Homo sapiens: one gene and its partner. The protein of the gene in region 1 purifies or fractionates together with the protein of each later gene. This does not show direct contact. Each region holds a gene or a part of one and is shown in the gene's direction. Other genes may lie near its edges.

The links. The genes of interacting proteins can lie anywhere in the genome.
Region 2: the proteins of BORCS8-MEF2B (region 1) and UBN2 purify together in Homo sapiens (affinity purification with mass spectrometry, with the first as the bait; one large-scale study listed by BioGRID). This does not show direct contact.

The regions. Positions count from the first base shown.
Region 1 is NC_000019.10:19,189,353-19,193,825, reverse strand, and holds the start of BORCS8-MEF2B (myocyte-specific enhancer factor 2B), read left to right. Parts: upstream 1-1,673; 5' UTR 1,674-1,708; coding exon of another isoform or gene 1,709-1,745; intron 1,746-4,473. Other genes in the region: BORCS8 (BLOC-1-related complex subunit 8), read left to right, coding at 1,709-1,745. UniProt on the Homo sapiens protein: Transcriptional activator which binds specifically to the MEF2 element, 5'-YTA[AT](4)TAR-3', found in numerous muscle-specific genes. Activates transcription via this element. May be involved in muscle-specific and/or growth factor-related transcription.
Region 2 is NC_000007.14:139,229,436-139,234,436, forward strand, and holds the start of UBN2 (ubinuclein-2), read left to right. Parts: upstream 1-1,801; 5' UTR 1,802-2,049; coding exon 2,050-2,517; intron 2,518-2,985; exon of another isoform or gene 2,986-3,022; intron 3,023-5,001.

The DNA.
Region 1 (4,473 bases):
GGTTAATTACCAGAGCCAGGGAAATGAAAACCAGAGTCCAACTGCTTTCGAGGTCTACCATTCCCCACCACCAAAGCACCTACAATGTGCAATGTTTAAGAGCCTGGGCTCTGGCAGGGCACAGTGGCTCACGGCTGTAATCCCAGCACTTTGGGAGGCCGAGGAGGGTGGATCATGAGGTCAGGAGTTCGAGACCAGGCTGGCCACCATGGTGAAACCCCATCTGTACTAAAAATACAAAAATTAGCCAAGCGCGGTGGCGGGCGCCTGTGATCCCAGCTACTCGGGAGGCTGAGGCAGAATTGCTTGAACTCGGGAGGTGGAGGTTGCGGTGAGCAGAGATCGCACCACTGCACTGTAGCTGGGGCGACAGAGCAAGACTCTGTCTCAAAAAAAAAAAAAAAAAAAAAAAAGAAAGGAAAAAAAAGCCGGGGCTCTGGGGTCAGCTGTCTGGGTTCGAATCCCTCAATTTATAGGCCGTGAGAACTTGGGCACGTGACTTAACCTTTGAGCCTCAGTTTCCTCCACGACAAAATGTGGAAATGAGACCTACAACGAATTATGTCTGTACATAGCTTATCGGGGGATCTGCTAAGCGTGGAGCTCAATAAATATTCGCTATGGTTGTTGGGAGGGGCTCCCCATAATGAGTGACGGCTCAACAAAGGTGCGATTGGTCCCAGTCCCACCCGAGCCTCCTAAATCGATCCAGGAGGTCCACTCACCTCCCCACGAGCCTCCTCTGTCCCCCCGCGCCGAAAGCCCAGTTCTCTCAAAACTTGGGGGCCCAAGTCACAAACTTTTCTCTTCCAATGGATATAGCAGGAGGCAAACTGGAGACCGGACCCTCAGCGATCTGGCTTCCTCTGCCGGGACAGAAAGCAACTTGATACTCGACCGCTACCCCCACCCCAGAGCTCCCCCACTGCGCTTGCGCACCCCCGCCCCCCAAAAGTGAGGAAGGGCCCGGGCAGTAAGTGCTGCCTCTGGCCCTTTAAGACTTAGGGGAGGGCGTGGGTTCCGCTGGGGTCCTGGGAGGGCAGTTGCGCCTGCGCCTTCTTTTCCCCTCCTCACCGACTCGGAGGGAATGGGCGGGGCCTAAAGGGCTCTGAGAATTTCACTACGCCTGCGCCCGCTCACCTTTACCCTGCCCACAGATTTTTCCAGAGGGAGCCAATTGGCTCCGGCTTCGGGTAGATGGGCGGGGCTATCTCAAGAAGAAGAAGTAGGGGAAGTACGCGGGGCGTCTGGAACTTAAAGGGGCAGCGTACCTTGGCCGTCCCGTTCCACAACAAGGTCCCTTCTGCGGTCTCAAAGGCTTATAAGCAAGGGCGGGGGCAGAGGGCTAAAGAAGGGAGTTTTTGCGGCCCGAGTGGGTAATGCGTGGAGGACTCCCCCAACTCGTCTCTCAAGGAAAAGGGGGTTCAGAAAGGGAGAGAGTTCTTCCCCCTCTCCTGCCTGGGTGTCGCTCCACCAGCCTCCTGGCCGTCGCGCCCCCTCCTCACTGCGCCACCCCCGGGTGTGCCTCCTTCCCTGCGTCTCACACAGCCCCTTTCTTGTCCGCAAAGACTGAGGAGCGGGGAGGGCGGGCCCTCTGACACCGGAACAGGAGCCGTGCGGCGTCCGGTTTCAGCAGGGAAGGCTTAGGCGGGCGTCCCAACCTCCGGGCTTCCGGTGCCGTTTCCCGGTTCGCTCGGCCGCGGTCGCTATGGAGGAGCCGGAGATGCAGCTCAAGGGGAAGAAAGGTGGTGCGGGCCTGCGGGCGGGACAGAGGGGGCCGGTAACTTGTGGAGGGGCGGCCTGACAAAGGCCGGGCGCGGAGGGACCGTGCGAGGAGCAGTGATTGAACTGCCGTCCAATCCCAGCTCTGCCGCTGACTAGTTTTGAAACCTGTAGAAAGGCTCCGTGTCTGCTTTAATTACCGGTCCCCCCAGGATTGTTTCAAGAATTCAGTAGCTGAGGCTGGGAGTGGTGGCTTTGTAATCCCAGCACTTTGGGAGGCCTAGGCGGGAGGATCGCTTGAGCCCGAGACCAGCCTAGGTGACATAGTGAGATCTCGTCTCTAAAAAAATACAAAAATTAGCCGGGCGTGGTGGCGCACGCCTGTGGTCCCAGCTACTTGGGCGGCTAAGGTGGGAGGATTGCTTGAGCCCGGGAGGTCAAGGCTGCACTGCAGTGGGCTACGGTCGTGCCACTGCACCCCCAGCCTGGGTGACAAGTGAGACCCTGTCTAAAAAAAAAAAACTCAACAACCTGATATTTGTAATGCATTGGAAGAATCCCCGGGGCGTAGTAATCGCTGTGCGTCTTGTTTCCTTTTTTTTTTTTTTTTTTGAGACAAGGTATCACACTGTCGCCCAGGCTGGGGTGCGGTGGCGCGATCATGGCTCACTGTAGCCTCGATCTCTCTGGCGCGGGCGATCCTCTTGCCTCAGCTTCTCCAGTAGCTGGGACTACAAGTGCACACCACCACATCAGGCTAATTCTTTAATTTTTTTTTTTTTTGACGGAGTCTCGCTCTGTCACCCAGGCTGGAGTGCCGTGGGGGGATCTCAGCTCACTGCAACCTCAGCCCCCTGAGTAGCTAGGATTACAGGCACACACCCCCATGCCCAGCTAATTTTTTTGTATTTTTAGTAGAGACGGGGTTTCACCTTGTTGCTCAGGCTAGTCTCGAACTCCTGACCTCGAGTGATCCACCCACCTTGGCCTCCCAAAGTGCTGGGATTACAGGTGTGAACCACTGCACCCAGCTAATCCCCTATACTTTAAATCACCCTAGATTACTCACATCTAGAATACATAATACAGGCCTACACATCACTTCATTCACATGGATTCAAAGAAGTGCTTCGTGTAGGGCAGATTGAAGTTTTGCTTTTTGAAACTTTGTGGAATTTTTTTTTTCCTATTTTCCATCCACGGTTGGTTGAATCCACAGATTCGGGAACCATGGATAACGGAGGGCATGAGTATGAGGCATGAGCCACCGTGCCTTGTCTGTTATGCTCACCTTTCTTCTTCTTTTTTTTTATTTGAGACGGAGTTTTGCTCTTGTTGCCAAGGCTGGAGTGCAATGGCGTGATCATGGCTCACGGCAACCTCCGCCTCCCGGGTTCAAGTGTTTCTCCTGCCTCAGCCTCCCGAATAGCTGGGATTACAGGCATGCACCACCATGCCTGGCTAATTTTGTATTTTCAGTAGAAACGGGGTTTCTCCACGTTGGTCAGGCTGGTGTCGAACTCCCAACCTCAGGTGATCCTCCCGCTTCGGCCTCCCAAAGTTCTGGAATTACAGGCGTGGGCCACCGCCCCTGGCCGTTATGCTCACATTCAAAGCGAGGAGGCCTATCTGGTAAGAGGTCACACAGTTTGGAGGTGGCAGGCTGGGCTCTGCCACTCAAGGCACAGTGGTGAGATGGAGAGACTTGTGTTAGCCTCCTTTGACTCCCAGACACGCCTGGGTTCTCTCTCCTGAGCAGTCACCCTGGTGATGGCATTGGATTCATCTCTGTAGCAAACTTTGAGGCTGGTGCTGTTATTCTTTTTTTGTGGATGAGGAAGCTGAGGCTCAGAGAAGCTCTGCTCTCCCAAGTCCAAGCTTTTAACTTTTCCTGTGAACATGTAACCTAATCAGTTGAAATTGGTATTAAGAGAAAGGAACAAAATGCCTGCCAAGGTCCTCCGTGAGGTGGAGGGGTCATCTTTTAAGCTTGGTAGTCAGGGAGGGTCTTGCCCAGGAGGTGACATTTGAGCAGACCTGAGGGATGAAGGAGAGCCAGTGACGGAATGGTGTCTCCAGGTGGGAATACCAAGTGCAAAGGCCTTGAGGTGACCAAGTGTTTAGAGCTCTGCTGTAATGAATAAAGGAGCAACTGGTCACATACGGGCATTTAATTTTTTTTTTTTTGGGACAGAGTCTCACTCTTTTGCCCAGACTGGAGTGCAGTGGTATGATCATGGCTCACTGCAGCCTCCACTTGTCAGACCCAAGCAGTCCTCCCACCTCAGCCTCCTGAGTAGCTGGGACTACAGGTATAGATCACCATGACCAGCTTATTTTTGCAATTTTTTATAGAGGTGGGGTTTCGCCATGTCTCCCAGGCTGGTCTTGAACTCCTAGGCTGAATCCATCCTCCTGCCAAAGTGCTGGGATTACAGGCGTGAGCCACCGCACCCGGCGTTGGTCTCAAATTCTTATCCTCAAGTGATCCTCCTACCTTGTCCTCTCGGGCAGTGAGAAAGTTCTGGGCAGTGCTGGGAGGTCCAAGGAAGAGCCAGGGGTGGAGGGCAAGGAAGGCAGGGAGGTCAAGAGCAGCCAGAACATGCAGGGCAAGAAAGGCGGATTTTATTCTCTGGCAGGTGGGAGCTATGGAAGAGTTTAAAGCAAGGGTGGGAATAGATGATTTGTTCATTTGGAGTTTGCCTCACGTGCTGCATGGAGGTTGAACTGTTGGCAGCAGGGGAAGCAGAG
Region 2 (5,001 bases), on another chromosome or scaffold:
AGGGTTTTCAATTTTGATCAGTTTAGAAGAAGAAAAAGATCAGGCACCACAGTGGATCAGATGTTCATGTACCACTGTCCTAATGAATTCTGGAGTGCAATAAACCTATGATCAGGCAAGAACTTCCATGGCATTAAATAAAATCTTTCCTAATTTGCTTCTATATGATGTTAACATTTTTTTCTACACTGTATTATAAAATATTTTATATTAAATTAACTCTGTTGCGTCTGTTGCTTTTACTTTATCCTAAGCAGTAGGTAAGTATTGTGAAACTTATATTTCACATATGCACATATGTGTTATGTATATATGGGTGTATATTCTAGGTTACAGTGTAAAATGTCTTACTGTGGGTTATGGATCAAAAAGTTGGAAAACTCAGTGGGTGAGAAGTTAGAAGATAATGTTGGATAAGTAACACACCTGTAGAAGGATTTGGCCCACAGACCACCAGTTTGCAGTCTCTGAGCTAAATTGTGGAGGATATTGAATATGAGTATACATACATAGAACTCAGTTTGTAGGTAAGTTGCAGCCAGAACAGAGAACGATATAATAAAAACTCTTTTAGAGACATTAATATGACCCCGTCTCAAGACTGGTGGGAACAGAGACTGAAGGCAGAAAGGTCATTTAAGTATCACTAAGGCAATCTAAAAATGAGACCCGAATTCAGAATCAGAAAAGGAGCAATAGGGAAGGAGATAATGTAGGTAAAACATGGCGCCGAGTAGAAAAGATAGGGTTTTAGAGCTGGGAGAGACCTTTGGAATCATAGATTTCATCACCATCTTCGTCCAAGTAGGGAAAGTAATAACAGGAGAGGAAAAAACGGAACCCTCTCAGAATTTGTCAATGACGTCACACTGACTTAATAAAAGAGCTTTCAATAGTTAATGCAATTAACAGAAGGCTTGGATTCCCTTCAGGATGTGAAGGGCGAGCCCTCAAATTTACTTTTTATTCAATGGATTAAAATGGCCAGTAATTCTTATCCTTTTAAACCCGACTTCCAATTAATTAATTACAAGTGAGCCTATGGGGCGTGCCCAATCAATTCCTTCCCCATCCTGAAATGGGTCCTTTAGCATTCTCATAAACAGTACGTTTCCTGAAATACCACTAAACCCTCTTAAGAAGTTTTCTATGATTTCAGCAGTTTAGGCCTTCTGAATGAGCCCAGAACTCCTCATCTGCTTGTTAATTTTCCAACTGCAAAGCGTTATTGAACATTTAATGACCCTGCCCCACGCAACGCCCACTGCGGCCGGGCGAGGGAAACCGGAGTAGGTCGAGGAAGGGGAGGCCTGCGCTTTCGGGAGGGAAGCCGCTGGGGCTAGTCTGGCTGAAGCTGGGCACTTCCTTTTTTCCCTCGATACTTAAGGCTACGGGGACACAGGGCGGGCAGGCACAACGGCTGGCGCGTCTCTCTACCCTTGCCCAGAGTCCGCCTTGAATAATCAGCTAACAACCCCAATTCCCTTGAACCCAGCACGGGAGACCCGGCGCCAATGGCTAGGTCGGTCTCAGTCCCATCCCGATGCTAGCCCCGGGAAGCTCCTGGAGCGCCTCTGGTTTCCGGGTGCGAATAGTAAACTGCTCGGGAAACCCCAGAACCCTCCCTTTGAGGAAGGGTGCAGACGGCGTCTCCGTTTCCACGGAAACAGGCCGAGCCATGTCGTCACTTCCGCCGACCTGTCTGGACTCCAGACTGTTGGGAGGAAAAGAGGAAAACTGAGCAACAGCCACGACAGTGGACGCGAGCGTCTCCTCTGTGCGCATGCGCCCGCTCAGCGGCCTGCTTCTATTTATGTGGGGGATCCAACATGGCGGCCGCGGCGACCCTGGCGATGGCGGTGAAGCCCATCAGAACGTAGTAGCGGGGAAGGGGACACGGTCCGCACTCACCGTGGCGCCGGCGGAGACGGCTGAGGGTGGTGGAGGGAAGAAAAGCGACAGAGAGCAAGAGGAAGGGCGGGCAGGCACGCAGCGCGCCGTAGAAGCGAGCGCCGGCTCGAGCAAAAGCGGAGGGCCAGAACAGTGGGGATGGCGGAGCCGCGCAGAGTAGCGTTCATTAGCTTGTCACCGGTGCGGCGGCGCGAGGCCGAGTACCCGGGGCCCGAGCGTGAGCCCGAGTACCCCCGCGAGCCCCCCCGGCTGGAGCCGCAGCCGTACCGCGAGCCGGCCCGGGCGGAGCCGCCGGCCCCGCGGGAGCCTGCCCCCCGCTCGGACGCGCAGCCCCCGTCGCGGGAGAAGCCGCTCCCCCAGCGCGAGGTCAGCCGCGCCGAGCCGCCCATGTCGCTGCAGCGGGAGCCCCCGCGGCCCGAGCCGCCGCCGCCGTTCCCGCCGCTGCCCTTGCAGCCGCCCCCGCCGCGGGAGTCGGCTTCCCGGGCTGAGCAGCCGCCGCGGCCGCCGAGGGAGACGGTGCGCCTGGAGCTGGTGCTTAAGGACCCCACCGACGAGAGCTGCGTGGAGTTCAGTTACCCGGAGCTGCTGCTGTGCGGAGAACAACGGGTACAGAAGATTCTTCCCTCCTGCCCCAGACCCCGGGAGCCTCAGGACCCGCCGCCTTCCCCAGCTGGTTTGCACCTTGGGACGCCCACCGAGCGCGTCCGGGTCGCCCCGAGGGTGGGGTGCGGGGGGCCGGGGCCGAGCGGGTGGACGGGGCGGTGAGCGCTGCTTTCTCCACTCCCCAGGGTGGCCGAGGCTCTCACCCGGCTGCGCCGAATCCCCAAACCCCCGGCACTCGCTCCCAACGCCGCGCCGAGCTCGTTTTCTTGTGCACCTTTCGGAACCTCAGATTTTCCTTCTTTCCTTTCTGCTCCCCACACAAAATCCTGGGGCCCTGCAGGCCGTGTGGCTGGGTTCTCCCTGTGGCGCTACAGCTGTCGTTCCAGTAGAAAGGAAGAGAAAACCTTGGGGGACACGCCCCCCAGTCTGAAGCAGAGATTGTGTAACCCCTCTCGTATCATCCTCATCCTCATCACTGTTTGTTTTGCTGGGCGCCGTGGCTGCTGAGGTGTGCTTGCGTGCCTGTGATATTTTTCTTAATCGAAGGGAATTTAAGAATAATTAAAGGTTTTCAGAGACTAAGGATCCCACTTTAGGAATGGAGAAGTGGGTTAGTTAATCTGGTTACTAATTTTTCTCTCGTGTTGGTATTGGAAAACCTTTTTAGCTTTCCTTTTTTGTGGAGTTCGTTCATATTGTAATTGAATGGGAAGGTGTCTCCTGTTTTATTTGACACCTACCCGTCATATTATTTAAGTGTACTATCATTAGTTTATAGAAGGATATTGTATTCAGCCTTTGTAATTTTCGGAGGATGATGAAAAAAATGTCAGCTTTGAATTTTTTAAAATAATTGAAAATATATAGGTATGCTTTTGATGTAAGAGGTGAACAATGGAGAAAGGATAGGGGTTATGTTCGTAATTGTAATTTTTATTGTTGTGGGTTGGTGGATCTTCAGAAGTAAGTTAGAAAAGGAAATGATAGATTAACAGTAAGGAAAGAGAACAGTTTTCTCTGTTGCTTAGCAATTATACCCGTTATTAGGTTTTGCTTTAGCTTGAGTCTAATGGACTCCAGAAGTCCCTTGTTTTGTTTTCATCTTCAACTACCTTTATGGTCAAAATGACTGACTGCTTAGTCACAAAGTATCATGTTGAACAATTTCACTAGGTTTTGTTTACTTCATGGCCAGCTAATGTTTTGATCATTATTTAGAAATGTTATGTGGTCAAATCATTACAAAATGTTTTCAACCAAAATGAATTGTTTAAAGGTAGAGATCATTTTGGTCACTTCCACCTAACATTTTGCTCGTCAGACTCACTTGAATGCCCCTTCTTTATAAATCTGAGGTCACTTTTTTCCCAAAAGAATATTAAAAATATTGGATTGGAGCATTTTTCAAACATTGTATTTGAGCTGCTAATCTAAGTTGGTTTGCAGTTTTTGTAATTTTCATAAATTACAGGAGAAAAGCATTATCTTTGGATAAAAATACATAGCAATAACGACATTTACTGGTTCTTACTGTGTGCTAGACACAGTTCTAAGCACTGCACATGGTTTTTCTAGTAGTCCAACAGAACTCCACGAGGTAAAAACTATTATCCTCACTTTACAAATGTATGTAATTTTATTAGTACTTCTTTCCATAGTGATACAATTTGTTAGTAAAACAAAATTTCTTAAAATTAACTCATATAGTTTAGAGGATTCTGCCAAAATGACGTAAAATGTAAGTCGCAGTAGAAATACAAAGACCTTTATTATGTCTCTGTTTATGCTGTAATATTCACACGATGGCAAATTAATAATGTGTATCATTTAATTATAAAAAGAAAAAGGTTTGACACCCTAGCTTTGTTAACTTGATAACACCAGAACTACTACTTTCATGCAATAGGAGAAAGAGGAAAAATTCCATTTAATTTTTCTGTATACTTATTAACAGTATAGGTGTCTATTGGCCCAATTATCTCGTATATCAACCTTCTATTTTTTTCATATACCTCTGAACAAAACAAAATCCATTGTATATAATCACCTTTGCAACAAAGATTTGCCACATTTTCCTGTGATTGCTGCCAGTGTATATCCTTATTATGCAAGAAAGCATAGAAAACATATGTTTAAGTAAAATTGTCATGGTTTCATGAAAGGAAATCCTAGAAGAGAGACCATCAAAAAGCAAAATGCGAACATTAGAATTGGTCTGGAAAGTTGGTGGTTCCCAAAATTAGAAGAATTAGAAAAGGAAGGGCTCCACATTTTTGAAATAGCCATCTATCACTAAATAAGATTTTAGCTCCAGATGCTGAAATTGGTAGATGTGGGGCTATTAAAAAAAAACAAACAACAAAAGGTGTGTTACATATGGATACCATTCATGTGGGTGCATTTAAATCAGTTCCCTTCTTAAATACTAAATGAACAGTAAAACCCTGATTTACTGGAACATAATCAGAAATTTTTCTATGCTCTATT